Regions from separate parts of the Homo sapiens genome. Here all the other regions are linked to region 2. Evidence: fine-mapped QTL for protein levels in blood plasma. A gene starts in region 2. Each other region holds a variant in brackets. All regions are shown on one strand. Distances are from middle to middle.

The links. A credible set is the group of variants that fine-mapping cannot tell apart. PIP is the posterior inclusion probability: the model's chance that the variant is causal. Protein levels are from antibody-based Olink assays in UK Biobank. Linkage for the fine-mapping came from a reference panel and not from the study's own genotypes, which makes the PIPs less certain.
Region 1: its variant is the best candidate, but not a certain one, in a credible set for the plasma level of the SCARA5 protein (UK Biobank, PIP 0.61).
Region 3: its variant is the best candidate, but not a certain one, in a credible set for the plasma level of the SCARA5 protein (UK Biobank, PIP 0.79).

Annotation. Positions count from the first base shown.
Region 1 is chr8:27,848,869-27,859,351 of GRCh38, forward strand. No RefSeq gene overlaps it. Among named protein-coding and RNA genes, the nearest start is that of PBK, 16 kb to the left of the region's middle. The variant T/C (reference allele first, on the strand shown) is at 4,382.
Region 2 is chr8:27,987,292-27,997,774 of GRCh38, forward strand. It overlaps SCARA5 (scavenger receptor class A member 5), which reads right to left and starts at 5,382. Exons shown (of 9, transcript NM_173833.6): 1 at 4,966-5,382; 2 at 213-339. The coding sequence starts at 324.
Region 3 is chr8:27,942,167-27,952,649 of GRCh38, forward strand. All of the region lies in intron 3 of SCARA5 (scavenger receptor class A member 5), which reads right to left. Among named protein-coding and RNA genes, the nearest start is that of SCARA5, 45 kb to the right of the region's middle. RefSeq lists enhancers at 7,202-7,703, 7,704-8,203. The variant C/T (reference allele first, on the strand shown) is at 6,100.

The DNA of each region.
Region 1 (10,483 bases), 140 kb before region 2:
AGTTTTACATCTTACATTTAGGTTTGTGATCCATTTTGAGATAATTTTTGTGAAGGGTGTAAGGCCTGTGTCTAGATTCATATTTTTTTGCATATGAGTGTCCAGTTATTCCAGCACCACTTACTGAAAAGACTGTCCTTGCTCCATTGTATCACCTTTGCTCCTTTGGAAAAAAATCAGTTGACTATATCTGTGTGGTTCTACATCTGGGCTTTCTATTTTGTTCTGTTGATCAATTTGTCTATTATTTCACCAATAGCACACTGTCTTGATTATTGTAGCTTTATAGTAAGTATCGAAGTTAGGTGGTGTTGGCCAGGCATGCTGGCTCACTCCTGTAATCCCAGCATTTTGGGAGGCCAAGGCAGGCAGATCATCTGAAGTCAGGAGTTCGAGACCAGCCTAGCCAACATGGCGAAACCCCGTCTCTACTAAAAATATAAAAATTAGCTGGGTGTGGTGGCACGTGCCTGTAGTTCCAGCCACTCAGGAGACTGAGGCAGGAGAATTGCTTGAACCTGGGAGGTGGTGGTTGCAGTGAGCCGAAATTGCACCACTGCACTCCAGCCTGGGTGACAGAGTGAGACTCTGTCTCAAAAAAAAAAAAAAAAAAAAAAAAGTTAGGTATTGTCAGTCTTCCAATTTTGTCTTTTCAGTCTATTATGTTGACTGTTCTGGTCTTTTGCCTCTCCATGTAAATTTTAGAATAAGTTTGTTGAGATCTACAACATAACTTGCTAAAATTGTGATTGAGATTGTATTGAATTTATAAAGTTGGGAAGAACTGACATCTTGGCAATATTGAGTCTTCCTTTCCATGAACATGGAATATCTCTCCATTTATTTAGTTCTTTATTTCATGTGTGTTGTAGTTTTCCCTATATAGATCTTGTATATATTTTTTAGACTTATACAGAATTTATTTCATTTGGGAGAGTGCTAATGTAAATGATACTGTGTTTTTAACTTCAAATTCCACTTGTTCATTGCTGGTATATAGGAAAGCAATTGATTTTTGTATATTAACCTTGTGTCTTGAAATCTTGCTATAATTCCTTCTTGGTTCCAGGAGTTTGGTTGTTTTTTTTTTTTTTTTGAGACGGAGTTTCACTCTTTTTGCCCAGGCTGGAGTACAGTGGCACTATCTCAGCTCACCGCAACCACCACCTTCTGGGTTCAAGCAATTCTCCTGCCTCAGCCTCCTGAGTAGCTGGGATTACAGGCACCCACCACCATGCCCAGCTAATTTTGTATTTTTAGTAGAGACAGTTTCTCCATGTTGGTCAGGTTGGTCTCGAACTCCCGGCCTCAGGTGATCCGCCCGCCTCGGCCTCCCAAAGTGCTGGGATTACAGGCGTGAGCCACTGCACCTGGCCTTTTTTTTTTTTTTTTTTTTAAGATTTTTACAGATTTTCTACATAGACAACTATGTCATCTGTGACGAAAGATAGTTTTATCCTTGTTATTTTCTTCCTTCTATTTGTTTTGGATTTAATTTGCTTCCCTTCCCTCTGTCACCAGCTTCTTACAGTGGAGATTTGGATAATTGATTTAAACCTCTTTTCTTTTATAATATGAGCATTTAAAGCTATAGATTCCTTTGAAGTATTGCTTTAGTGGCTTTACAAATTTTGGCATATTGCATTTTCATTATATTTTAGTTCAAACTATTTTCTAATTTCTCTTGTGATTTTTTGATGCAGAGTTACTTATAAATATAATTTTAAAATTAATAGGTTTAATTGTCATAATTGTATACATGTATGGGATACAAAGTGATATTTTGATATATGTATTATACAACATGGAATAAATTAATAAACATAGGCAGCACCTCATTTACTTATCATTTTTTGTGGCAAAACATCTGAAGTTTACTCTTTTAGAGGATACAATACATTAATATTGACTACAGTCACCCTGCTGTGCAATAGATCTCAAAATGTATTTCTCTTGTCTAACTGAAACTTTATACCTTTTGGCCAACTACTTCGCTTTCCTTCTCTCCCACCCCCACCCTCTCAGCCTCTCATAACCATCATTCTACTCTCTACTTCTAGGAGTTCAACTTTTTTAGCTTCAACATATAAGTGACATCATGCAGTATTTGTCTTTTTTCACCTGGCTCATTTCACTCAGCATAACATCTTCCACGTTCATCTATCTTGTTGCAAATGACAGGATTTCCTTCTTTTCTATGGCTGAATAGTATTCAATTGTGTATATATTACCACCTTTTCTTTATCCATTCATTCATCAGTGGACCCTTAGGTTGATTCCATATCTTGGCTATTATGAATAATGCTGCAATCAACATCAGAGTGCAGATATCGCTTCATTGACTTTAATTCCTTTGGATACATACTCAGAGTAGGTTTGCTAGAACATAAATATAATTTTTAATTTCCAAATATTTGAGGGCATTTTTTCAGTATCTTAGAATTAGTGATTTATAATTTAATCTCATTTGGCCAGAGATCATACTATTAGGCTTGGAGTGATGCTTTGTTAGGGCAGGCCTGTTTGGTTCTGAGCATTGCCTGTACTCTTGGTCATTGCTATTTTCCTAACTAAAAATATTTGGAAAATGGAGTTCTGGAAGGGTGCATATGTATATTAGGGTGATGGAGGAAAGTAATAACTCCTTCTCTTCCTTAGTGGGAAGTTTCAATAGATAATACCTAAAACTAAAAAATCAGTATATAACCATAGGAGATGAAATAGATAAGGTACTTGATGTATCTGAATGCTTGAATGAAGATTTAGATAATGGTAAAGCATTTTGGGTTGAATTAAGTAAGCGTGCAGAAAACAAAACAAAAAATTGATGACTATTAACTCAATGGTGAGTAAATGTACAAGAAATGAAAAATAATTATATTCACTACATAGTTCACCTGTGAATAGTATTGACATAATAATATAAAGAGTAAATTAAACATTTTTTAAATTAAAAAATTAGAAAAGTTGAAAGAATATACAGTGAACACTTTAGAGATATATATATATATTCCACCTGGATTCATGAATTAAACAATAGATGATAGTACACTTTTTATCATCAAGGTGTACAGAATGTCTGGTTGTCTGCCTTTTTAAATTAGTAGTTATTGATGCTTAAATTTACTAGATCCATTAATTTATTGAAGGCTACAAAATGATATTTTAATTCTGTCAGTTCTTTCTTGATTCATTTCCTTTCCACTACTATTTTGTGACAGAGTTATGCCATTTATATGCTTTTGTTTTTGTTGTTGAGACAGGGTCTCACTGTCGCTCAGGCTAGAGTGCAGTGGCATGATCCTGGCTCACTGCAGCCTCCATCTCCTGGGTTCAAGCAATTCTCGTGCCTCAGTCTCTGGAGTAGCTGGAACTACAGGCACGTGCCACCACACTTAGCTAATGCTTCAATTTTTTTCCATGTATTTACTAGTTTTCAAAATAATGAATTAGTTCCAAATCATCCTCCAAAGGAGATCACTTAGGTTTTAAAAATGGCATCATTTTGAATACATGGATTTCAATAGATTTGATGGATTTTAATTCATTGCAACTCTCATCCTCACTGACATTCGCTGTAATGTGTTTGGCCATGGGAACCTTTCCAAGCTGGCCCCTGATCTTGTTCACATGGCCTTCATAGTTTTTCATAGCTTCCTTTTTAACTCATATGACAACATGTTCCAGGCTCATCATGTGCATTTTTCACTGCAGGCTTGGTATCAGCCATTTCTTCAAGAAGCCCTCATGTCTTTCTTTTGAAAGCAGAAAATGGTATTTCAAGAACATAATCTGAGTGCTAGGGATAATCATTGCTTGAGGTGTGGTCACTGTTTCTAGGCCTGTTTTTTAAATTGATTTTTAACCAATTGCCTAGTTTTAACCACACGTTCACCTCCACTTCCAAAAGTAGCTCCTGTCACTGAGTTCTAAGCTTTTTGGGAATCCTGTGGCCTTCCTGCTTCCTGCTTAACACTCAGCCTTCTCTTGTCTGCTAAGTCGTTCACTGCTGTGCGTCAGCTTTCCAGTTTCAAAAAGGCTGTTGGGCCGGGCACGGTGGCTCACGCCTGTGATCCCAGCCCTTTGGGAGGCTGAGGTGAGAAACTTGGTTGAGCCCAGAATTTTGAAACCAGCCTGGGTAACATAACAAGACTCCTTCTCTACAAAAAATTTAAAAATTAGCCAGGACTGGTGGTACATGCCTGTAGTCCCAGCTACTCAGGAGGCTGAGGTGGGAGGATTGCTTGAGTCTGGGAGGTTGAGTTGGCAGTGAGCTATGATTGCACCACTGCACTCCAGCCTGGGCAACAGAACTAGACCTGGTCTCTAAAAAGAAAAAAAAAAAAAGTTTACTTTTGTCTCTGCTTCTGATAGCCCATTG[T/C]TGTAGGTTTATGTCCATAAGAGACAAAATTGTTTTATTCTTGTTTTACTAAGGTCTTAGGAGGGAGTGAAAGAAGGTATTTATGTCCAATCTACAATTTTTAGCTTTGAAAGTCTCTCATTTATCTTTGTATTCCTGGTATACTTATAGGTTTTGTTAGTCCATAGTAAATATTTTTGAAATGTAAAGAGAGAGTGTATCAAGAGGGTTACCCTCTCTTGACCTTGCTTGTGACAAGATGGGTCAGACCAGGAGATGCTGGGATAAGCTGTTCCAAGACATGTTTCTTTTCACTTCTGACTTCGCCTTGCATATTCCCTGGCAATCACTTTGTCACTTAGGTCTGAGATCCCAAGGCTATGCTCCCATGAAGAGCTGTAGATTCAGCAGGTGTCTGGCTGATCTGGGCTTTCTGACTCCGTTCTTGGTTATTAACCTTGCTATGGACTGACTAGTTGCCAAAACGACACCCAGAGCTCTGGTTCTCAGGTGAAGTTAACAGTCAGGTGTCAGCTGCAACAGAAACCCTCACAGCTGATCCAGCCCTGAACGTGCTGACTGCTGAGGCCAGCGGGCCTTCTCAAACGGAAGAAAACCTTAGGAAATGACCATTCCCAACCGTCTGTGAATATCAGACATGGAATAGCAGCAACCCAGATCTCCTTTTGGCTTGATGGAATCTGACTTCCTACTCCCCACTCTAAAGTCCAGAGGAGAAGACTTTGCCAGAATTATAATTTATCAAAACATGTTCTATTCTAAAGGGAAAGGGGACATTGACAGTATTTGTATGGAAAACGTTTTGCTTTGCATCACTGATTCTTCATATTCCAAATAATTTGTGGGGTGAGTGAGTTACTTGATTTTTCTTGTAAAGGGAGAAAAATAAAAACTCTTATAGTTCTCTAGAGGAGCAGCATAAATTAAAACTGGAAAACGAGGCAGCAGTGATACATTCCATTTACCTTCAGCAAACACTGCACAGGGGACGCCTTGGCTGCAGAATCTGCAATGCCAGAAATCAGCACCGACTCTTTTCAGATGTGACATATTTTCCACAGAACTTGATTCTCATCTTTGCTATGACTGCCTGTGGCCACTCAGTTACTAGAAGCCTACCATGCCAGTTCTTTGCTAAGTGGCTCTGGCAAGGTCTTTGCTAGCATTTAATCACAGTGAGAAAACTCCAGAGACTTTATTAGCTGTATAAAGAATTATAGAGATATTAGCTTAAGTTGGATGAAGTCCAGAGCAGCTGTACTGCTCTTCAAGTACCAGAGAATTTCTAAGAGATATATTATGCTAACAGAAAAGTATCCTGGGATTTTAATCCTAAATTATGTTAATACTGAACATAGGTATTCTTTATTTTACAAAGTAGCTGTATTCCTGAAAACTGTTGTGTTAATCTGGCTTCTAATACCCAATCCTACTTCCCCATTCATATATTTTGAAAGTGTTTAATCTTCATTTATGGCTAAATGTCAATGTATATATATACTTTTTTGTTTTTTAATTTTTTCTTTTCAGAGATAAGTTCTCACTCTGTCACCCAGTCTGAAGTGCAGTGGTACGACTGTAGCTCACTGCAGCCTTCAACTCCTGGGCTCAAGCAATCCTCCCACCTCAGCTTCTCAAGTAGCTAGGACCACAAGTGTGCACCACCATGCCCAGCTTTCCCAGCTAATTTTTAAAAATTTTTTTGTAGAGACGGGGTCTCACTATGTTGCCCAGGCTGGTCTCAAACTCCCAGGCTCAAGTGATCCTCCCAACTTGGCCTCCCAAAGTGGTGGGATTATAGGTGTGAGCCATTGCACCCAACCTCAATGTATGTACCTTTTTTTTTTTTTTTTTTGAGACAGGGTCTCACTCTCTTACCTAGGCTGGAGTGCAGTGGCATGATTATGGCTCACTGCAGCCTTGACCAGCCAGGCTCAAACAATTCTTCCTCCTCTGCCTCCAAAGTAGCTGGGGCTACAGGCACACACCACCATGCCTGGCTAATTTATATATGCATATTTTTTGTAGAGACAGGGTTTTGCCATGTTGCCCGGACTGATCTTAAACTCCTGGGCTCAAGTTATCTGCCCTTGTCAGCCTCCCAAAGTGTTGAGATTACAGGCATGAGCCACCACACCCGGCTGACTCAATGTACGTACTTTTACTTTCAATTCTACTTCTCCAAGTTTCTTTGACAAGTACTTAAATATAAAAAGAGTAAATATACTAGTATAGCTATCTATTTAAAGGAATGTTTATTAAATATTTTGGTAATGAGTATTTGATTATTTTGATTTTTATATATTAATAGGAATTAAGTCTCTGCTTCATCCAAAATGTGCAGTCTGGCTCACTTAACCTGGCTTAACTTTCCAAAATATATTTGCTTGTAATTAATACCTGCTGCCACTAGGTGGTGGTGGTGCTTTGGCCACTGAATGAGATTAGTATGCTCTTGCAAAATAATACATAGGGCCTGGTGTGGCGGCCCATGCATGTAATCCCAGCACTTTGGGAGGCCGAGGTGGGTGGATCACCTGAGGTCAGGAGTTCAAGACCAGCCTGGCCAACATGGTGAAACCCCCTCTCTATTAAAAATTCAAAATTAGCCGGGTGTGGTGGGTGCGTGCCTGTAATCCCAGCTACTGGGGAGGCTGAGGCAGGAGAATTGCTTGAACCCGGGGAGGTGGAGGTAGCAGTGAGCCAAGATAGTGCCACTGAACTCCAGCCTGGGCGACAAGAGCGAAAACTCCGTCTAAAAAAAACAAAAACAAAATCATATCTAAAAATACTTCACTGTTGAAATAAGTACAATCAGTATATTTTCCATTAATCATTCAATATGATCATTTCAAATTAATTTAATTCTCAACTTATTTCAATGCTTAATTAGCTTATATCAGTGTTTCTTAAAGTAAATTTTGTAGAGCACTAGTTCCCCACACAGTACTTTCCTATGCCGCATAAGAAATTACCACAATCTTAGCAGCTTAAAAACAACAAACATTTACATTTCCACTTCCAGAATGGCCACACGAGGTGCTCCACAGTCTCCAGCAAAGCCAGCATAACTGGTGAAAAATATATTTCAAACCTCAGTATTTAAAGTCTCTGGAAATTGTCCTAAGAGTATATAGCAAATAAATAAACATTTATTCAAGAAAATGGAGTAAAATTTGGTAAGAACATTGAGAGTCCATGGCATTTGAACCGTAACTCCTTCCTTACCCAGGGTTGACTGTGGCAGAAACTCCAGCCTAGGCAGGTAAAGCCAAGAACGCAAGGCTCCCTCTCCCGTCGGCTCCCACTTTCGGGTATGGTATGTTCCTGGGAGGGGCAGGCCACAGAATTTTTCATCAGCTGTGTGTTGTAAATTCCAGGGCTAAATTCCAGGTGAGTCCAGCCAAGAGGCCTGATGTTCTCTTCTTCCACCCAGCCCCCACTGGCAGGTGAAGGTTCTTCACCAGGCGCATCACACTGAGAACAGAGAGGCTGTGCTCATCCTTATTTGCAGGGTGGAGGCTCCACGCTCAGAGGGATGGATGATGCCATCCTTTACTATCACTAAGTGTGGAGTGGGGGATAACAAAACGGGTTAATGTGGGAGGTGAAAAGGTTTTACATTTCTGCTAAAAGGAGGTCAGTTCTAAATTACTTTTATTGCACACTGCTATAAGATCCATGAAGCTGACTTCTACAGTAATGATTGCTTACACATGTTGAAAGCTTGGTGCAACAGATAGGGTGCTAGACTAGAGGTTGGATATCTTTTACCTTAATTTTGTCATTTACCAGCTGTGTGACTTGAGACAATTTACCTAACCTCCGGTGGGTCATTTTTTTCATTACATAACGGGGATAATAATGACTGCCTTAATGATCTCACCGAACAAATATGCAAACCAAATCAGGTAACTTGTAAAGCTGTCTTAAATTGATTACCCTATATGAATGTAAGGGTTTATTTTTATTGTTGATGATGACAATGTAGATGGTTAATCACTAATTAAAAATAATTGGCTTAAAGAAGCATAGTTATCCAATTAACTTATCCTTGATTGATTAAACAGGTTTAAACCCAGTTCTTGTGGTTGTTCATTACCATGGACATAGAACGATCAGTTATATACTAGGATGGTTGTTCTTCACCTTCAGCGTGTTTCAGAATCACCTAAAGAGCTTGTTGAAATGCAGGCTTCAGGAACCCCTCCCCAGAGTTTCTGATTCAGAAAGTCTGGATCGGGGTCTGAAATTGTGCATTTCTAACAAGTTCCCAGGAGACACTGATGCTGTTAGTCTAGAGACCACAATTTGAGAACTACTGTCTTAGGTGGACAGGACATTTTCAGCCTTGTTACAAATTGCTATAAGGGCCCTGAAAAAAGATTCCAGGTAATATGAAAACATTTTTTAAAAAAGGCACCTGCCCTAGCCTGGGAACTGCTAGAAATCTGCAAGAAGGAAGGAACATTGGAGCTGAAATCTGGCAGAAAAGTGGTAGTTAATCAACATAGCAGAGTGGCAGAAGAGAAGAACTGCTAGACCAAAAGAAGAATGGGTCAAAGGCTCTGGGGCTGGACGGAGTGTGATGCTCAATGCTTCTGAGGAAATGGAAGGCCAGCATGCTAGGGTGAAGGTGAACACAGTGGAGGCACCGGTGAGGCCAGAGTGAGAAGGAGGAGACCAGCCCTAAAGACTCTGAATTTCATCCTGAGAGCAATGGGAATTTGCTGAAAAGTTTTCAGCAAAAGAATGTAATGACCTAATTTGTGTTTTTAAAATCCTTTCTGGCTGCTACATGGAACATTGGCTAAAAGTAGGCAAGGGTAGAAATGATGAGACTAGCTAGGAAGGTACAGAAGTCCAAGAGAGCTGGTATCAAGGGCTGGCTGAGAAAGTCTAAGTGAGGTGGGGAGCTGCGAATGGGAAGAGTGAGGCACTCCCTGGAGTAGCGAGAGAGGGAGCTGCCACCTCCCAGCTGGGTGAGTTGCAACGTTCACTGAGCTGGAGGGTGGAGGACCACAGTGTGATGGTAGGGATGGGTGGAGGGACATCCTGATTTCACTGGGGACTTACTGTATTTTAATTTTTTAACTCACAGTAGAATTCAGGATTTTTTTTTTTTTTTTTTTTTGAGGCAGACTCTTGCTCTGTCGCCCAGGCTGGAGTACAGTGGCTGATCTTGGCTCACTGCAACCTCTGCCTCCCAGGTGCAAAGAATTCTTTTGCCTCAGTGACCCAAACAGCTAGGAGTACAGGTAATGAGCCTGCCCAGCTAATTTTTGTATTTTTAGTAGAGACGAGGTTTTTCCATGCTGGCCAGGCTGGTCTCGAACTCCTGACCTCAGGTGATCCACCCGCCTCGGCCTCCCAAAGTGCTGGGATTACAGGCATCAGCCACTGCGCCCGGCCAGAACTCAGAATTTTTTTTTTTTAATTTGGAGAATATACATTTCTAAGAATTTTGAACAATTGTGCATACATAATCACTACTGCTATTAGGACACATGATAATTTCATCTTCCAAAAACTTCCCCAGGTCGTCCTTGGTAGTCAAATCTTCTCCTTACTCCTAAAACCTGGCAATACTGGTATCATCTTGGCCTCTATACTCTTACCTTTTCAAGAACGTCCCAATGTGGAATCATACAGTGGGTAATCCTTGGGGCCTGGCTTCTCTCACTTAGCACAGCATATTTGAGATTCATCTGTGCTCTTGCATGTGTCAATAGTTCATTTCTTTTCATTCCTAAGCAGTAGTGTGTCATTTGGGTGTACCCCTTTGTTTTGGCATTTATGAATAACACTGCTATAAAGTTTCATGGACAGGCTTTCATGTGAACAGAGATTTTCATTCCTCTAGGGTAAATGCCTAGAGTTGGGGTGCTGGCTCATATAAGCTTATGTTTAACTATATTTCATATTTTATCTTATTTATTATTTATTTACTTTATATATTTTTTAATCTTTTAATTTTTTTTTGAGACAGAGTCTCACTCTGTCACCCAGGCTGGAGTATAGTGGCTCGATCTCAGTTCACTGCAACCTCTGCCTCCTGGGTTAAAGCAATTCTCATGTCTCAGCCTCCTGAGTAGCTGGGAA
Region 2 (10,483 bases):
AATGAGTACTCATCTTGCTGACAGGTTTGTGGAAGTGAATGAATGAGAAAACCCATGGAGAAGACCTTTTAAAGCATAAAGTTCAATATATGCACTATTACATGAGGAGGTCACAAGCACTTAAAGGCAATGCCAAGGTTGGGTGGTGGTAGGGCTCCTTCCCCACCCCCAGGCCAGATCTTGTGCCCCAAGTCTGAGCCAGCTGCACTCACCATCCTCACACAGGTTCAGCTTGGACAGGCTCCTGCCATCAAAGGAATCCTCACAGATGGAGCTGGTGTCACAGTCGCTGACGGTGTGTAGGTACATAGCTTTGTTCTCCATCACACCCTGCAACAGCTGCAGAGAAGGCAAGAGGGGAGGAGAGGGAGGACGAAGGCCGGGAGAGAGACAGAGAATCAACTGTAGGTGGAAACAGAAGCAAATGGATAGAACAAGGTGCCCACCCCTGACCCTAAGCCTGAACACCGGGACCCTCTGCTCATCACCAGGACCCAGGTGCCATCCTCCAGGTCCTTGGGGCCGTGATGCCCCCACTCCCAGCTTCCTCAGGGCTTCAGAAGACCAAGGCCCTTGGGCCTTTCTGATGGTGGGATGTGTCCATTCCTTTCAACAACTCTCAGTGGGGCTGGAATCCTGAGCTGGGGTCACTGTGGGTTACACTGGGTGGGGCCAGGAGGAGGGAACCCTGCTGACTCAAAAGGTAACCTGAGAGCAGGCTCTGAGCCCTCAGAAGCCCGGGGCATGCCAGAGAGACTTGAGCTTCTGTTCTGTGTTGGAAATGAAGGAAGGAAACTAGATATGAAGGGGCATTCAGAGGGGGTACAGAGTCCACTTGCAAACAAAGCTGAGCAGACCAGGACTGCTCCCAAATCCAACGGGGCTGGCATGTTGGAAGGAGCTTGGCTCAGTAGGACCACAGCAGGGATTCATCTACTGTGGTGGGGCCCGAGGAGCAGGGAGCCTCTGAAGGGACACCCAGGCACTAAGCATCTGGACAGCTTTAGGCCAGGGAGGGCTTCTGTCTGCATGGCCCCCAGAGGCTGACTCATTGGGTCTCTGGGTCTACGCCATGATGGTCCAGGAGCATATACATTGACTTAGGAGAATCCTATGCTCTTTGAAAGGAAACAGCCTGTTGACGCAACAATGTGTACAACACGATCCCATTTTGTAAGACATGCACGCGTAAGGTGCGTGTGGATGTAAGACGCTATGATGGCTCCGGGTGAGAAATGTATTACAGGACTCTGGCTGGAAGGGATTGTGGGGATTTAATATTCCTTTTTGCTTTCAGATTTTCTGGGTTTTCTATGATGCATTTACATTCCTTATGTAATGAGAAGAATCTGTTTTTTAAGCCAAATTACAAAGTATATACATCAATTTCTTGATATTGTTTTTGTCACATAAATGCTCAGTGACTTTACAAATTATTCTCTACTTTCATCAAGGTTCCAGCCATGAGTTTATCTTGACCTTTGCTTCTGATTCTCTTTAACTATCTGGACATTTAACCAAAGAACAGCATCCTTTAGAAGATAAAAGCCCCATGAGGATGGGTCCCAGGCCCAGTATGGAGCAAACTCAACCCTTCAACCCAGAGGAGGCTGGGAGGAGAGGATGCAGGGCTGGCAGGTGGCAGTGGGGGGACAATGCCTGTTGATTGAGAGATCAGTCAATCAGTTTCTCTTCAGAGGGAGGGTGGGCAAGGAGGCGTGGCAACTTTCATAAATAGACATAATCAGGGAAGGCGGCTGGCGGGGTTGCTCTGCAGCAGAGCAAAACAAGAATTCCGTATTTTCTTTCTTCTTTTTTTTTTTCTGTTTCTTTCTTTCTTTTTTTTTTTTTTTTTTTTTTTTGAGACAGGGTCTCACTCTGTTGCCCAGGCTGGATGGCAGTGGTGCAGTCTTGGCTCACTGCAACCTCCGCCTCCCGGGCTCAAGTGATCCTCCCAACTCATCCTCCTGAGTAGCTGGGATTACAGGCACAAGCCACCATGTCCAGCTAATTTTTTGCAGAGATGGGGTTTCACCATGTTGGCCAGGCTGGTCTGGAACTCCTGGAGTCAAGCGCTCCACTGGCCTCAGCCTCCCAAAGTGCTGAGATTACAGGTGTGAGCCACTGCACCCAGCTGAAGCCCCTATTTTCATGACTTGAGCTTGGCCTCCACAGACCTCTGACATTTGGGCTGAGAAGAGACCAGAACTGACCAGTCACTGTATACATGTCCTTCTAATGACCCAGGAGGGCTGGACGCCTCTGCTGTTAGCCCTTCTGTACATCCCCCATAACGGGCACACACACGCATGTGCACACACACAGCCTTGGGGCTCCCAGTATCTGCGGGCCTCTCCTCCAGCCTATGGGAGGGATGGAACAGGGGGTGGTCCTCGGCTCTGCCAGGATCTCTCCTCCCTGCCCCAGACACCACCCACTCTGGCTTCCCTGTGCTGCAGTGGTGTCCAGTTCACTGGGCTCCCAATTCCGGCCCTCCACCCAATGCCTCCACCCAGGCAGGGCCTCTAGGTGGGGCCGCGGGCAGCTCCAGCACTGCTAAGTTGCAAGGGACCCTCCCTCATTTCATGAGCACTGTGTGCGGCAGCCCTCCCTCTGGCTTCACTCCTTGCGGGGCTGTGAAGCAGGAGGCCAATGTCTCTTTTGCCTGCAATAACCCTCCCTCTGCCAAAGGCAATAGCCTCTGCTTCCCAGAGGCCACACAGAGCCAGACAGGGCGCTGCCCCTGGGGAGTGGAGGTGTGAGGCCCCACTGCCATTTCCACCTTCCTCCTCTTCTGGTCAGCTCCTGGGACGGGGCTGGAATGCACGGCTTGTTAGCCAGAATGTGTGTGAAGGGCAGCTGTCTCCTTCCTCCTCCCCACCCCTCAGCTGGTCCAGCAGGAGCCCAGGGGATCTGCTGGGGAGAGGGACTGGGGCCGAGCGGGGCCAGATGTGAGTGCACAGGGCTTGGAAAAGCTCAGACAACTCTACTCATGTTTGTTACTTGGAATTGAAACCTACGCATGTTCTGTCTGCCCAAGGTTTCTTGGGGGCTGTTTTTCTTTCTTGGGGGAGGAAGCAGGCATTGGGACCCTCAGATCATGGATCTTACTGTCTTTGGACCAAGTCTGTGCTCTAGAAGATGAAACTGATGGCAAGTGCTCCTCCCAGGAGCACTGTGTTGGGGGTAGGCTGATGGCATTTGCATTCCGTCCCTCCCATTTTAAACATAAGCCATCCCAGACCAAAGAGGCAAAGGAAGGAATGGATATCAGAGCGGGAAGAGGCCCCGGGCACAGTTTTCCTACACAGGGCACTGGCTCAGCTGCAGGGTTGCTTTGTTTGGGAATTGCATGTCAGCCCCTTTGGTGACCACTTTCTGGGCCCCAGATCAGGCAGAGAAGAGAATCCCACCTCAGACTGCCAGCCAGTGTACTCCAGCAGGTGGGGATCCTGGGACTGAGGCAGGGCTCTGAGAGCTTGAAGCACATGGGCGAGATGTGGAAGCCACAGTGACCTGTGGATGAAGCCCAAGGAGACTGGACCTCAACTTGCAACTCAAAGAGGGAGGTCTTGCTCTAACAGGGAGGTGTCACCCTCTCCACTAACCTCTTGGCAATCATGATTTACTTCCAGACAATTTCACCCAAGGCACTTAGAAGGGCAGGTTCAGAGCCAGGGATCTGCTTCTAGATTCTGCATTTTAGAGCTGGAAAAGCCCTCAGCCATCTGTGCCCTGCAGCCCTGTGCCCTGGGGCCATCTGCGCCCTGCAGGCCTGGCTCTCTGCAGGAATGCAGGGAACACAGAAGCCAAGGGCTCCCATCCTAGCTCCTCTGCGTATTGGTTTCTTGGGGGAACTTGGCTCAATTACCTGACCTCATTCAGCCTCAGGTACATGACCTCTAAGATGGGAAGGTGGGTAGCTGCTGGTCACCCAGGATCACTGTGAGCCTCCCGTGAGATAATGCATGTGGCATGACTTTATGAACAAGGTCACTCAGGGGAGCTGGTGGCAGTCTGATGAGAAAAAGCATCCCCCAGCATCTTCTGACTCTGCCTGGCAGCCAGGTAAGGGGGTGTCCAGGTTCCCAAGGCCTCCCTCCTACCTAGCCAGTCTCAGAAACAAAGCTGTTTGAAGTTCCCTTTGTAAAAGGCAATCGCGAATGCACTCTAGGGCTGATATCAGGACCCTGGCTCTTCAATCCTTCTCTGGAGATCAGAAGGACTCCATTAATTCCTCCTCTGAGTGGGTAGCACGAGCCTCATTTGCTGCTACCAAGTCAGTTTCTCTGGGTACCCGCATCTAACTCTGCAGGGTTTATGGCTTTTCTTTGGATTACCTCACTTTAAACTCATCAAAACCAAGGAAAAAAATCACATGAGTGTGGCCCTTCTCCAAAGAGAGAATCACTAAGGAGGTTTTAAATGTTTTCCTCCTCTAACTGTACTTAGTTAAGCTAAATCATAACCCAAAGCTGGACAGAGACAGATATTTTAGAAATAACCTCTCCCCACATATATCCCACCACTGGCACATGCACACGCACAGACATGCACACACACACACATGCACACACACACACATGCACACACACACATGCACACACACACATGCACACACACGAAGCCATGGAGAGGAGCTGTCACCTGAGCCATCTGCACCCTGAGTAGGCTCTTGAGCTGTGACATGAGTCAGGTGGAGTAGCCACCAAGGCAATAGCTTCCCTCTGGCACCCCAAATGCAGGCTCACATTCTCTCCAGCCCAGGCAGTTGGATGAGGGCCCGGCAGATATCTGCGGGCCCAGCAGGCGGGGACCTTCCCACCTGGAGAAGGCACCTCCAGGCTCTAGGTCTGAAGTTTCCCAAACTCTGTACTCCTCTCCATCCAGTTCACTCCAGTCTCCTCCAGCTGTCTTTGAGACAGCATGCCCAGGAGATAGGACAAAATTAGTACCAAGACTCACCTGAGTGCCCCTGGCTGAGGCTGTAGAGCCTTGTCCCCTCAGATCTCAGCATTTGCCATGGTGGCCAGAGAGCTGGCTGCCACCACGCTGAGAGCCAGGCCGCCCCTCGGACCGCGTCCCCACAGCCAGCCAAATCCAGATGGAGTCATAGAAAGGGGCTGCAGGGGCGCCCAGGGACGAGTCTCAGAGCAGGACCACAGGGGCCACTTCTGCAGGAGGACCAGGTCAAGATGCAACCTGTGGCAGAGTGGGGGTCTGGGCCTGGGGGACCCAGAATGGGGGGTGTGCGCCTGGGACTCCCTGTCCTTGGTGCCTGGTCCTGGGTAGCGATCAGGAGATGTTCTGAGGAGGCACCGGCAGCTCCTCTAGGTACTGCCTGAGATGCGAACTGCAGCTGCTCTCGCCGCCAGTCCGTATAAAATAAAGTTCTTGGAGCAGTTGCGGAGGCTTCTGCAATGGGGTCTGGAATACGGCCCCCCTCCTGCGGCCAATCGTGGCATTACAGCCCCGTGTGGGAACGCCCGCTGGGCCCAGAGCAGCGCGGTCGGCCTTGGCCTTGGGACTCCAACACCCCAGTCTAAAGGTCCTGCTCAAAATACTTTTTGGAAGACTTCTGGGGGAGTGGCAGCTAGACCTGGCTTATGAGCCACGCAAGAAAACCAGTCTTGTAAATTTATTTATAGCACAGAATTGGCATGGCTCAATTCATTCACCAAGCTTGGCACAGAGTTACTTCATGTATTTTCCTGGAGTCACATTCATCCTCAGTGGACACGGATTGGCCACACTGGGGGTAGTCAGGAAAATGCCCCAGGGGGTTCCACGGAACTCAGCAGCAGAATCAGCGTTTCTGGCTCATTAACGCTGCACAGGGGCTGGGGGGTGCAGGATGAAGACTAGCTGGCTGTCCATAGCAATTCAGTATGGGAGGGGGACCCAGGCACGAATAATCCTAAACCTGAGCATGATTGCTTACGTTTGAAAAAGGACATCTAGGCCGGGTGCAGTGACTCACACCTGTGGTCCCAGCACTTTGGGAGGCTGAGGTGGGAGGATTGCTTGAGCCCACCCACAAGTTCAAGACCAGCCTGGGCAACATAGTGAGACCCCATCTCTAAAAAAAAAAAAAATCTCTTTAAAGGCAATCTAACCATATGTGAAGGGAGCTGCTAAATTCAGATTGAGGTGGTAGTATCAGGGGCATCAGAGAAATCACCATAATTGTCCAAGCCAGGGTGGCAGAGTTAGGCTATGCAGATGGCTTCCAGAGGACAGCACCCAGAGGTAACATTCATGAATGCATTCCTGTTTGTTGGTGAAAAGTTCAGCCTCAAGACTCCAGGGTCAGGCTTCGTACATGAAAAGTGTTTGCCAAGACTCAGCTGTGTCACTGCAGCTGCCCGCCCACAGCTGAGTCAGAAACGCCGTCCTCATTCTCAGTGACTGCCCTGCCTGACTGCCTAGGAAGCAGCTCCAACATCAAACTCCATTTTACAGAAAGAACAAATGATAATTGTATCATTATGGTAATAATCCCAGGGAGCGGAGGAGGAGAAGGAAAAGAAGACAACACTTTATAGCATATACCATGTGTTTCTTATATATTAGCTCATTGAACCTATTCAACAACCCCCTGAGGCAGGTGCTGCTATTATGCTCATTTACAGAGACAGAGAGGAAGTGACTTGTCCAGGGTCTTGTAGCCAGTAAGTGGCAGAGCTAGTATTCAACCCTAGGCAATGTGATCCTAGGGTCTATGCTCTTAACCCCTCCCCTGTACCATTGCCTCTCAAGGGGAAACAAATGTTTTTGTCCCCCATCAATTCACCAACATTCCTAGGAATGTAATCTTAAAAACAGCCAGAAATGTGCTCAAAATATGATGTCCAACCAGCCTGGGCAACATGACAAAACCCTGTCTCTACAAAAAAAAAAAAATACAAACAATAGCTGGGCGTGGTGATGCACACCTGTAGTCCCAGGTGCTTGGGAGGCTGAGATGGGAGGATCAACTGAGCCCAGGAGTTTGAGGCTGCAGTGAGCTGTGATCGCACCACTGCACCCCAGACTGGGTAACAGAACAAGATCCTGTCTTAAAAAAAAAAGTGATGTCCAAAGACCTTCCCTAAAGAGATGTGTATGTTAGCAAGAAATGTGGTAGTTAGTGTCCCCCTAAATTCAAGCATTGGAAATGTAATCTTTATTGCAACAGTGTTGGGAGGTGGGGCCTTTGTGGGGGTATTTGAGTCATGAATGTATTTGGGATGCCGTAGAAAGGGCTTGCAGGAGTGGGCTGGCTTGATCCTCTGCCTTTCTGCCATGTGAGGACTCCACGCTCATCCTCGCTTGTCCTCCCACCTCCCGCCCTGTTCGAAGCACTGAGTCCTATTGCGTGATAGGCACATACCACACACAATGTGTATATCGGTCTCCTGCTGAAGGGGGTTTGGGATGTTTCCAATCTTTGTCTATTATGAATAAAGCTGCCGGAACAGGCAAAGGGAGATTTGACAGTGAAGTATAGGAATGACCTGGAGGGCTGGTTTTCTCATGGGTGAGAGTCCTCCCGGCAGCTCTTAGCTCAGATACCTCCTTGCCACTAAAATCAGAATTGTCCCCAAAATGATTTGCTTCCATTCAATCACGGATGGCATTTGTAGTAGGCATTTCCCCCCCAGAAGCTGAATGAAAATGTGATTGCCTTGATAGAGGAGGGTTCAATAGACTTCTGAAGTAGTTTCATCTATGAAATCTCAGTATTTGAAATGGAGGGACCAAGCTTTTTCAGTTTGTTTTTTCTAGAGGTAGGATGTCACTTTATCACCCAGGTCGGAGTACAGTGGCACAATCATAGCTCACTGCAGCCTCGACCTCCCAGGCTCAAGTGATCCTCCCACCTCAACCTCCTGAGTAGCTGGGGCTACAAGCACATGCCACCACACCCAGCTAATTTTTTAAAATCCTTTGTAGAGATGAGGTCTCGCTATCTTGCCCAGGCTGGTCTCAAACTTCTGACCTCGAGCAATCCTCCCGCCTCCACCAGCCAAAGTGCTGGGATTACAGGTGTGAGCCACCATGTCCAGACTCCATTTTTGACTCTGATAAATGGTGCTGCTGTGAACATTCTTGTGTGTGTCTTCTGGGGAACATATGAATGCCATTCTCTTGGGCATATACCTGGGCATGGAATCGCCAGGGCATAGGATGGCCCTGTGTTCAGCTTTGGTAGACACTGCCAAAGAGTTTCCTATGGTGGTTGTACTAGTTTATATCCAGCAGGGGATGAAACTACACTTATTCCTTGTCCTTGTCAGTGTCAGTGATGTTTATTCCATTTTCCCTGCTCTGGTGCATTGTAGAGGTGCCATATTGTGGTTTTAATTTGCATTTTCCTGATGACTCATGAAGTTGAGCACCTTTAATTATGTCATTAAGTCTGATTGTTGACTTGAACTCTGGGCCCGTTACACCAGCAGGTCCTGCCCTATGGCTTGGGGTTGGCTGTTCCATCTGCCTGGAGTGGTTCCACCAGATGTTTGCACAACTAACTTCTTTGCCTCATTCCCATCTTTTCTCAAATGTCACTTTGTTCATGCTGCTGAGCCTAATGATTCCTACCCACAGGCCAGGCATGGTGGCTCACGCCTACAATCCCAGCACTTTGGGAGGCCAAAGCGGGAGGATCACTTAAGGTCAGGAGTTTGAGACCAGCCTGGTCAACATGGTGAAAACCTGTCTCTACCGAAAATACAAAAATTAGCTGGGTGCAGTAGCAGGCACCTGTAGTCCCAGCTACTCGGGAGGCCGAGGTGGGAGGATCACTTGAACCAGGCAGGCCGAAGCTGCAGTGAGCCAGGATTGCACCACTGCACTCCAGCCTGGGTGATAAAGCGAGACCTGATCTCAAATAAATAAATAAATAAAATTGCTACACACCCCTTGCCACTCTTAGTCCCCCTCACCCTGCTTGGTTTTGCTTACTGTCTGCTAGAACAGCAGCTCCAGGAAGGCAGCTCACTTGAGTGCTTCAAAATGCCTAGCAGGGTGCCTGGCGCACAGTACACGCTCCAGAAATATTGGTTGTGTGACAATCTGAGGAAACAGCATCAGGCACAGGGAACAGAAGGCTCAGAGGCCTCAGTATGGAAACACACTGGACATGCCGGAGGGGCAGAGAAAGGCCCAGTGGCCAGAGCACAGAGGATGCAGTGGCCAGAGAGAGGAGGTCAGGGGAGAGGGAAGCCTGGGTCTCACCCTGAGCACAGAGTGGAGCTGAGGCCACGCCCTTCTTTTTTGTCTCTATCTTCTCCCAGGGAACACATCGATCCTGTACTGTTCATATTTTTGCTTCTTTTTTTTTTTTTTTTTACATATTTCTTCATTATAGTTTGCTACTTCTTGTTTAAACTTTTTAAAAAAATTAATTGTGGTAAAACACACATTGCATAAAATTTGCCATCCTAACCCTTATTTATTTGTTTGTTTGTTTGTTTATTTATTTATTTATTTATTTATTTATTGAGACAGAGTCTTACTCTGTGGCCCAGGCTGGAGTGCAGTGGCGTGATCTCAGCTCACTGCAACCTCCACCTCCTGGGCTTAAGCAATTCTCCTGCCTCAGCCTCCCAAGTAGCTGGGATTACAGGGGTGAACCACCACGCCCAGCTAATTTTTGCATTTTTAGTAGAGACGGGGGGTTCGCCATGTTGGCCAGGCTGGTCTCAAACTCAAATGATCCACCCGCCTCAGCTTCCTAAAGTGCTGCGATCACAGGTATGAGTCACCATGCTCAGCCCTAACTGTTTTTAAATACATAGTTCAGTAGTGTTAAGTACATTTGAATTGATGTTCAACCAGTCTCCAGAACTCTTTTCATCTTTCAATACTGAAACTCCACTCATTCAACAACTCCCCGTCCCCTGTCCTCCAGCCCCTGGCACCACTCATTCTCCTTTCTGTCTCTTTGAATTTGACTACCCCAGGGACCTTGCTATTTCTTTATCTGTGGCCTACTCTGCAAAAATACACTCGAAAATGTTTACCTTTAGTATTTTCTTTTTGGTTAGTTTTTAATCTGGTTCACATGAAATATAAGTGCTTTTCAAAAGCAATTTTTGTCCATCGTTTACAAACCAGTGTTTATCTTTTATTATTGTTCAGCTTTGTAAAAATATCTTGGTGAGAAGTATGTAATCAGCTGGGTGCGGTGGCTCACGCCTGTAATCCCAGCACTTTGGGAGGCCGAAGCAGGCAGATCACTTGAGGCCAGGAGTTGGAGACCAGCCATGGTCAAGATGGTGAAACCCTGACTCTACTAAAAATACAAAAATTAGCTGAGCATGGTGGCTCACGCCTGTAATCCCAGCTATTTGGGAGGCTGAGGCAGGAGAATCACTTGAACTCTGGAAGCAGAGGTTGCAGTGGGCTGAGATTATGCCACTGCACTCCAGCCTGGGTGACAGAGTGAGACTCTGTCTTAAAAAAAAAAAAGTATGTAATCTTTCAAAACTCAAAATTT
Region 3 (10,483 bases), 45 kb before region 2:
ATAGCTTTTCCACCATTAGCCAGTGACAGCCAGGCCTCGAGACTGAGTCTTGCAGCCCCAAGTCAGAGTATGTTCCACGTGCCTTTATCCCACCTCCTCCCTATGATTGTGACTTTCTGGCTGCTGGAACGCACAGCTTTTCACCCTCTTCACGATGGTGGCCCCCACTACTGCTCTCCCTAGAACTAGGTAGTTGCTTGATACTTTCCAAAGAGATCCAGAACGCTGTTCTCTCACTTTCCAACCACCACCACCAAGCCTGCCAGCTCTCTCACTGTTAGGAAAGCTGCCCATTGCTTCAACTGGCAGGTTGATCCCAGCCCCTTGACCTTCTCCACCTGCCCTCCTCTGGCCATGCCCGGATCACTGCCATGCCTGGATCCAGAGCTGCCTTCCGATGCCCCGGCCTCTGGGAGAGTTTATCAACTTTTGTATACATCAGTGGTGAACTCTGAGCACCTGCGTCCACTTCCTTCCCCACTTTAACTCTCGGGCTGCACGGTACTGCAGAAGTGTTACGCTGACTTGGCCCTTTCTTGTGCTGCTTGAACATCCTGGAGTTGGGCTGCCTTGAGTGGGTTGGAGGGCTGGAAAAAAAAATGCCCTTTGCTGCTATCTCAAAGCATCTTCATGCTTCTTAATGCTGAAGCCTGCTTTGCCTCTCTCATTCTTGGAAGTAACTATATCCACTTTACCAAGAACATGAAAGCCATTTAGCAAGAACACCATCTCCTCTGCATCATTTAGCATGAATGCCACCTCCTCTGCACCTCACCATAGTTCTGCAAACACACTGCTTCTTCTCAGATGAGAGTAAGAAGCATCCCTCTTCCTGCTCAAGGTGACCTGCACCCTCTGTGTTCCATTCTGTTCCCTGCTGGCTCCTTGATAGGAAGCCAGTGGTGGGAGAGGTGCAGTCCTGTGATGCCTTGAAGGAGCCATCCAACATAGAAGCACCAAGAGGTTGGAAGGGTGGGGTGTGTTAGGAGGTTGCATCCTAACTAATGAGGGTACCCCACAAGATAGCCCTCTAAATATTTGAAGATGGATCCCCTTTCCTTAAGGTTTCCTTTGCCAACATGGCAAAACCCTGTCTCTACTAAAAATACAAAAAGCTTGTGTTTTTACAAACCAGGCATGGTGGTGTGAGCCTGTAGTCCTAGCTATTCCGGAGGCTGAGGTGGGAGGATCACCTGAGCCTGGGAAATGGAGGCTGCAGTGAGCACTGCACTCCAGCCTGGGTGACGGGAGTGAGACTCTGACTAAAAATAATTATAAAGTCCCTTTATTGCCAAAGTCATTCTTTCCTGAATGTGTTTTAGCTTAAATGCATCCAGCGGTATGCTGATAAATGTTTAACAACTGGTTCTCCAAGGGGTTGGGGAGAAGCCTAAGCTGTGGTGCTTGCCAATGTTTGAGGTGTAAATATCCCACTATGACCGACTTCAAGCTACCAACATGACATCATTGACTACGGAGTTAGGAAAAGACGCACGTAATCAGAGCTGACCAGCACACCACTGTCTGCAGCCACCTTACATTGCAGCGGTCAGAGAGGAAAACAGCAATGAAGAGGGTTAGAAAAGCCACATTTGATGACCACCTTTGTAATAACTGACTCGGGCAAGAATTGTAAGTGGATGCTAAAATCATGGAGTGAAGGATTGCTGGCAATCAGTGTATTTACACAGCCTCAGAGTGTCTCCCCACAGATCACTTCTTAATCAGAGGGAATAAAAGATAGCTTTACAGTAGATTATTCTGACCAAATTTACCTTAACCAAATTTACCATTACCAGTACAGGAACAAATTGACACAATCCACCTCCTCAAATGACTTAGAAAGTGTTACTGCCAAGAAGGTTTAACCTACGTCAATCATGGGAAAACAATTAAACAAACCCAAGTTAAAGGACAGGATAGCAAGCAACTGGCCTGCATTCTTTAAAATGTCCATGTCATGAAATACAGTGAAAGGCAAGGAACCCATCTAGAAAAGACTATGGAGCCATGAAAACCACATGTATATTCTGGATTGGATCCTGCATCAGGAGTTTTAAAAATGGTTATAAAGGACATTCTTGGAGCAACGGAAGAAAATTAAATATGGATATACTGTATTTATAATCAGCATTAGATTTCTTGAATTCAGTAATTGTATAGTGGTGATATAAGACAATGTCCTTGTTCTTGTAAATACACACTAACATATTTAGGGGTGAAGTTTGCAACTCACTGTCAAATGGTTCCACAAAAATTAAAAATGGTAATAACAAACGTGGGGCGAGAAGAGAGAGCAGGTACACGCAAATGGCATAAAATGTTAACAATATTAAAATGAAGGGTATATAGCACTCTTTATAGCTTCCAACTTCTCTGTAGGTTTAACATTTTTTAAAAAATAAAAAATTAAGACCAGGCATGGTGGCTCATGCCTGTAATCCTAGCACTTTGGGAGGCCAAGGTGGATGGATCACCTGAGGTCAGGAGTTTGAGACCAGCCTGGCCAACATGGTGAAACTCCATTTTGTAAAAATAGAAAAAAAAAAAAAAAGTAGCTGGGCATGGTGGCAGTTGCCTGCAATCCCAGATACTTGGGAGGCTGAGGTGGGAGAATCATTTGAACCTGGGAGGCAGAGGTTGCAGTGAGCCGAGATCACGCCACTGCACTCGTCTGGGCGACAGAGCGAGAGCCTGTCTCAAAAAAAAATAATTGAGGTCAGGCGCTGTGACTCATGCTTGTAATCCCAGTACTCTGGGAAACTGAGGCAGGTGGATGACTTGAACCCAGGAGCTCAAGACCAGCCTGGGCAACATGGCAAAACCATCTCTACTAAAAATACAAAAAATTAGCCAGGTGTGGTGGTATAGGCCTGTAGTGCCAGCTACTCAGGAGGCTGAGGTAGGAGGATCATCTGAGTTCAGGAAGAAGAGGCTGCAGTGAGCTGTGATTGTGCCCACTGCACTCCAGCCTGGGTGATGGGAATGAGACTGTAAAAAAATAATAATAAATTGAAAAAAAAAAAAGGAAACACTGAGGAGTTGTCTAACCTGCATGGAGCCAAATAATACTGGTGCCTCCCTTATTCTCTATGAACGTAACTTTGATCACGATAGCTTTTGGTGGCAGGCATGTCACACACTGACTCATAGACTGCATCCTGCCAAACTCAAACCCTCAACCTTGCTTTAAAAACTGATGTCAAGCCGTGGCTTCCCCATTTGTGGGGCACTACTTCATGTGTGTCCATATTAATTGACCAGGTCTAAGCTATCTCTCTGGGTTTCAGCCTTATTTTGGGTTCTGATTCCGCATTCCTTTAAATTGAGTGCTGATCTCTGTGAACCACAAAGACAACAAACATGTCATCCGGGATTTAACTACATAAAGATTTATGAAGCATACAGGTTGTGCAAAGCAGCAGGTTGGGTACAAAGAAATCAACAACAAGTAAATAAGATGTGAGTGTCAATCATAGCCTTCTGGAAGATAAGAACCAGGTCTTATACTTCCTTGGTCCCCCTATAGCACCCCATGGTAGTGAGTATGTATTAGACACTTTATAAATGCCTGATTTGACCTCACATAGTAACCAGGCAAAAGGCTTAAACAGCCAGTCTCCTTAAGAGATGACACAATGAATAATCAAATGTATGGAAAGCTTGATGAGATTATTAGCTATCAAAGAAATGCAAATTTTAAAAAAGGAAATCTCTAAAAGTAATGGAACAGTGCTACATCATGCTGGCAAGACCGTGGTGAACGCTAGTGTGTTTAAACATTGCTGATGACTGTGCAAATATTTTTGGAAGGCAATTTGGCAAAAAGTATCAATAGCCATAAAAATGTTCACATCCTTTGCAAAATAGTCTCTCTCCTGGGAATTTAAGAAGTAACCCAAAAGAAGGGAAATGCTACAGCAGTGAGAAATTTATCACTCTCTTATTTGTAGCAGTGAAAACCTAGAGAAGTCGTGGATGAGCAATTAGGAACAATTAAATCATGGTACATTAACCAGATGAACTTTAATGAAGCTCTAAAAATGACAACCATGAAGTCTGCCATGTAACAATGTGGGACATGCATACGCTATCACAGGAAGCAAGCACATACACACAAAGGATTAAAAGAAAACCAGGATTCGTGAAAACAACTGACTTTAGAGGAGTGGAATTATGAGTGCAGCCTTCTTCTCTGAAGGGATTGGCTCCAGGATCCCCCACAGAAAATCCTCAGATGCTCAGGTCCCTTCATTGGACCTCCTGTATTTGCTGGTTTCACATTCTCAAATTCAATCAACCACGGATAGAGAGAGGACTCAAAGGAAACCAGCCCTGTTAGCACCTTGATCTTGGACTTGCAGCCTTCCTGAGAGAAAGTAACTACATCTATTGTTTAAGCCATGCAGGCTGCGGTATTTTGTTATGGCAGCCTCAGCAAACTAATACAGACTGTAAGAGACAACCCAGCCAGCCAGGGCTAATTTGGCTCTATCTAAGGGTAGGACCAGGAGCCCCAGGCACAGTGGATTATGGGTCATTGTAGGCACCACCAAGTGTGCCCAGGGCCAGAGAGAATCTGACGAGGCCTCCTTTGCCCTCTTCATCCCAGTGAGTGGAATGCCCCCCTTTCTGATTTAGGAAGGGGTGGGCCTTGGGCATCTGCATTTCAAATAACAACCCACCCCTCCCTGATTTCTGTTTTAGCAAACTCGTTGAACTGAGATCCTGCAGAATGACTGAATTCATGATCCCCTTAGCTTTTGTTTTTTTTCACTGTTCTCCTTCAGTTTCTTCTGTCTCTCCTAGCGAACAGAGATCCCAGGTGGTCAGAATATCCTGTTGGGCTTTTTTTTTTTTTTTGAGAGGGAGTCTCGCTCTGTCACCCAGGCTGGAGTGCAGTAGTGTGGCTTTGGATCACTGCAACCTCTGCCTCCCAAGTTCAAGTGATTCTCCTACTTCAGTCTCCCGAGGAGCTGGGACTATAGGTATGCACTACCACGTCCGGCTACCTTTTGTATTTTTAGTAGAGACAGGGTTTCGCCGTGTTGGCCAGGCTGGTCTCGAACTCCTGACCTCAGGTGATCCACCTGCCTTGGGCTCCCAAAGTGCTGGGATTACAGGCATGAGCGACTGCACCCAGCCTCTGTTGGACTTCCAAGGGCAAATTGGCTTAAAAATCCAAAGGGCAAGAGATTCTGCTTCTGGGTACAAGCCCAAAAGAATTGAAAGCAAGGGCTTGAACAGATACCTGAACACCCATGTTCATAGCAGTATTATTCACAGCAGCCGAAAGATGGGAGCAACCCAAATGTCCACTGACAGATGGATGGATAAGCAGAATGTGGTCTAGCCAAGCAATGAAATAGTATTTAGCCTTACAAAGGAAGGAAATTCTGACCCCTGCTTCAACCTGGATGAACTTTGAGAACATTACGCTAAGTGAAATAAACCAGTCATAAAGGCTCACGCCTGTAATCCCAGCACTTTGGGAGGCCCAAGTCCGAGACCAGCCTGAACATGGCGAAACCGTGTCTCTACTAAAAAAAAAAAAAAAAAAAAGTCAGGCATGGTGGCACATGCCTGTGATCCCAGCTACTTGGGAGACTGAGGCAGGAGAATTGCTTGAACCCGGGAGGCAGAGGTTGCAGTGAGCTGAGATCACGCCACTGTACTCCAGTCTAGGTGACAGAGTGAAAAGATAAAATAAAAACATGATAGACAAACACTGTCTGATTCCACTGATATGAGGTCCCCAAGAGAAGACAAATCCATAGAGACAGAAAGTAGAATGGGGGTTGCCAGGGGCTGGGGGAATGAGGAGTTCAGGTCTAGTGGATGCAGTTTCAGCTTGGAGATATGAAGAGTTCTGCTAGTGGGTGGTGGCGATGGTTGCACGGCAATGTAAACATGCTTAATGTCACTGACCCTTACACTTAAAAATGGTTAAAATGATAAATATTATGTTCTGTGTATTTCACCAGAATAAAGAAAATTCTAAAAGGTAACTGAGGAGGGGAGCTGGGTGGGGTCGGGGGTGGAGGACAGATTTGGCCTCGGGCTGGGTTGCAGGCCTCCTCCCCAGGGTGAGGGCGGTGA[C/T]TTAGGGGAGGGTCTGGCTGCTCCAGGCAAGCAATTACTCAGACTCAGCCTTGGCCACACCCAAGGCCACAAGATATATGGGCCCTCTGGGAGGGAGGCAGGGAGGCCCCAGCTCAGCTTTCACAACTGAAGTCTCAGGACCTGGCTGGGAGCCACGAGCTGGAGCCTTCCTTCCCCTTCCCCTATCTTCTCTTCCATCAAATACAAAGGCGGCAGGGCCTGGGGCTGGGCCGTTCCACCGGCAGGTCAGGACCGCCAGGCCAGCCTTTCTGTCCACTGGGCCGAAGGGTGTGGCCCGGTTCCATGTGTTTGGGATTTGAGCAGCTAGGGGCCTGGAGAGCTCTTCAAACTGGCCAGTCCCACGGGGCTTGGTGGGTAACATTCCCCAGTCCCTCTCCAAGGAAGAAAAACAAACAGCTGAGCGCAGGAAGCCTAGCTGTGGGACTCGCTCCAAGACTGAAAGGGGAGGAAAAAACGATTCCAGCCCCAAACGCCTAGTTAAATTGAAAGCAATGGACTACAGACGGGAATGGGCACTTTTCCATAAGCCCCAGCCTTATCAAGGAAATTTAAAAATCCATCCTTGAGAGTTCATGCGTTTTGCTTTGTAATTTGCAATGTGGTGTTATGGCCGTTTGTGTATATCGATGTGCATAGTTTATATTGCAAAAGCAGATATTATAAAAACCCACATGGCCAGGCTGAATGAACGAAGCACAAGCGGGTGGAGCCCACAATTGGCTTGGTGCTAGTATTCTTTGTGGGAAGCCACCCTCCTTGTCCCTCACTTCGGGGTGCCTCAGTTTCCCTATCTACTTCTTGCTCAGAGGCTGGTGGTGTGGTGGACAGAACAGTGAGCTTCAGGGGACCTGAGGCCCAGGCCTGTCTTGATCACACATGAGCAGAGCCCACGTGGCTCAGAGCTTGGCTTTCCAGCTAATCTGTATTTCCTCAGTAGAAGCCAGGTGGCAATCACAGGGGAACAGCAGGGATTAGTGAGACGGAGCTCTTGACCAGGAAACCAGAGTCAGCCCAGCTTTGACCTTAACCACCAGTGCCCTTTAAATTTAATCAGCAACTATTTATTTTCTCCTATGAGAACTATCAACCTCGTTGGACCTCAGTCTTCTCATCTGTGAATGGGGATAATAGTGTCTCCCTCAGAGCAGTGGGTGAGGCTCAAGTAACCTATTGGATGGGAAATATGATTATTACTGTAACCGTAAGGGTGGAGTTGGGTGAGGTTGGCAGCTACCATGTGGGAGCATGGGGGTCTTTGGGACACTATGGATTGAGTAGCTCAGGAATCAGGCCACTGTTGCCGCATAACTCAGCCTGGAAGCAGGGCAGGCAGATCGGAGAGCAGCAGCAGTGCCTGACTCACCTCCTGTCCTCCTTCCACCCCAACCGCATCCCATCAAGAGGGCTTTTCCCCGTGGAAACTCACGCCCACGGTACCCGGAGCTGGATGGGAAAAGCCCCTGCCTGGCAGTGTCTCAGGTCTGAGTCCTCCCCTACAGCCTGCCCGGGTGCAGAAGGGGCCAGGGACATGGGTCTGGCTCCTGAAGAGGCCCTGCAGGTTGCAGTGGGGTGGGACCTGAGGGGAGCCACTGCCCATCCACAGAAAGAAGGGCTGTTGCAGAAAGTTCTGGAGCTGGACTAAGCTGGCCTTGCTGATGGTGCTGCTAAGCATGAACAAGCAGGCTGGCCTTGGGCAGGTCCACCAGGGCCTGAGCAGAGACCTAGGGAGGCTCAGTAATGTGGCCAGCCCACCGTGGCTCCTTGTGGTGAGAAAGGGGCTGAGAGCCTGGAAACGCTGGGGGAATGCCACCCACTGGCCACCTGGGAGTGAGTCCTTGCAGCCAGGGCAGGTGCAGAGCCACCAAGGAGGGGAAGGGGTCTAGCACATCCTCCTGCCAACTGCATGCCAGCCCCAGGGGCTGAGGCAGGGACACCCACACGCTCTTTGCCATTAAACCACCTATGTCTGCACTTTGACGCGAGCCAGACCTGGGGGTTGCCAGGAATATGCACGACTACCTGGAACCTGGTCCAGATCCCTGCCTTGTAAGGAGACCCCCACCCCACACACACCCCCAATCCCATCCTCGAGCAGACCCTTTCCACACAGGCCTCATGCCCGTGCTTGGGGGGCATCCCAGCCTGCACGGCCAACTCTAATCCCCACCTAATGCCGGCAAGCAACCCTCCCTTTGTCACCCTCTGGCCAGCACCGTGGTTTCCCTCTCCCAGAACAGCCCAAAGGACCTGGAAGAAAGCTGAGGCTTTGGGGAAGGGAATTCCAGTCCCAGGTCCCCAGAGCATGACCCAGAAGGAGGGACATGTGAGCTCCAGGTGCCATGTTCTCTTAGCCCTCAGGATGCCTCACCTTGTGGGTTGGGAAGCGGCCAGAGGGACAGAGTGGGGCCCTCTAACACATGGGGACTAGGGCAGGTGCCTTGGTCTCAGGAACCTGAGACACTTAGCAATGCCTCGGAATCCAGTGCCAGCACTTTCCTTGAGCGTATATTAACAGACAGCACCTCTGTACCCATTCAACCGATCGGAACGAGCTCTGTGACAAAACTCCTATTTCAGCACTCAGCTTTATGGGAAAAAAAAAAAAAGGTCAGTGTGGACTAAGCCATTTATTCCACAGACCTCACCAATAACTGCTGTTATAGTACCATACACAGGGACTCACCCCTTCTCAAGAGGAATGGTGGGTGCTTAATACATCATCTCATCTAAGGGTCTCCACGTTACTCAGAGGATGGCCTTAGGATCCCCACTTTACAGATAAGAAAACTGGTGCTCAAAGAGGTTTAGAAATTTGCCCAAACTCATGGAATTTTTAAAAAGAGCAGAATGGGTTTGAAATGCAAGTCCATGTAATTCTAAAATTTAGGCTAGTGAATGATACAGAGGGATTCATATATGTGCCCCCAGAAAGGTCACAGTTTAGTGTGGAGTCAGACACAGAAAACCGGTATCAATGCCTGAGCAGGACAAGAGCTGTGCTGAGTGGAGCAGGAGGGCAGTGTGGGAGCCGGAGCTGTGGTCACTCCCAAGGTCCAAAAACTGATCGGCGCCAATGGAGCTCTGAAGGTCCAGCCCAGAAATTCTCAACCCAGAGCCCCCAACAGAACCTTTAAAGAGCCCCAAAGTAGACATGGGTTTTCTTGGTGACCAACGAATGACTGGTGACCATTGATGTGTCAAGTGGTCAGGCCCCCGAGGCTCACAGGGGCAAGGCCCCCTGCCCAAGGTCACACAGCTTGTGGCAGTGCCAGGGTCAGGAGACCCGAGGCTGGACCTCCGGTGCAGAGGCCCGTCCCGTCCTGCACGGTGCCATCAGCGACTGCCCATGGCCACACGGTAAGGCAGAAGGCAAGTGTGCTCCACGCCAGGGAATGTGCCTCCTGTACCCAGAGGAGGAAGGAAAATCCTTCCTCTTCCTCATGCAGGGGAGGTTCCCTGAGACAAGGCTGGAGAAGAGGAGGTCCGGAATCCCTTCTTCCTTTCAACATTTTTCACGGGGAATGACTTCGAGCGAACTCGAACACACCAGAGAATTCCAGTCCCAGGTCCTCAGAGCATGACCCAGAAGGAGGGACATGTGAGCTCCAGGTGACATGCTCTCTTAGCCCTGAGTGCACAGGGTGTTGCTTAGAGCAGGTCACTTTTGCAGGATAGTGTCCCCTGCAAACTCATGTCCACCCAGAACCTATTTGGAAATAAACTCTTGGTAGGTGTAATCAAACTAAGATGAGGTTGTATTGGGTTGGGGACCAATATGATTAGTGTCCTTAGAAGAAGAGGGAGATCTGGACACAGAAACAGACATGTAGGGAAGAAGGTTGGGTGTCGATGGGAGCGCAGATTTTAGCAATGAGCCTACAAGCCAAGAAACAAAGGGGTGGCTGGCACCCCCAGAAGCTGGAAGAGGTAAAGAAGGATCCTTTCCCACAGCCTCTAGAGGGAGTGCAGCCTTTGCTCGTGCCTTTTTTGGACTTCCATCCTCCGAGCTGTGAGAAAATAAATTGTTATTTAAAGCCACCCGGTTTGAGGTACTTTGAGCAGTCCTAGGAGATGGACACAGCTGGGTGGTTGTTTTCTGACCATCTGGCAGTTGGAGATCAAGGGTTGGGGTGGAGATCCCAGTCTTTATGGACCAAGTCCTTGCACAGGGAGTGGTCAGGGGGCTTTCTGCCTTCGTTGCCATCACCCAGGGGACACAGGCTGCAGACCCTGCAGAGCTACTTCCCTTAGCCCTGTACTCTTCACTCCTCACAGCCAGCAAGACCTTCCTGTGGGCCTGAGAGTGACAAGCCATGCAGAGAGGCAGAATAATGAAAAATCCTATCATTCCCTGCAAATTGGT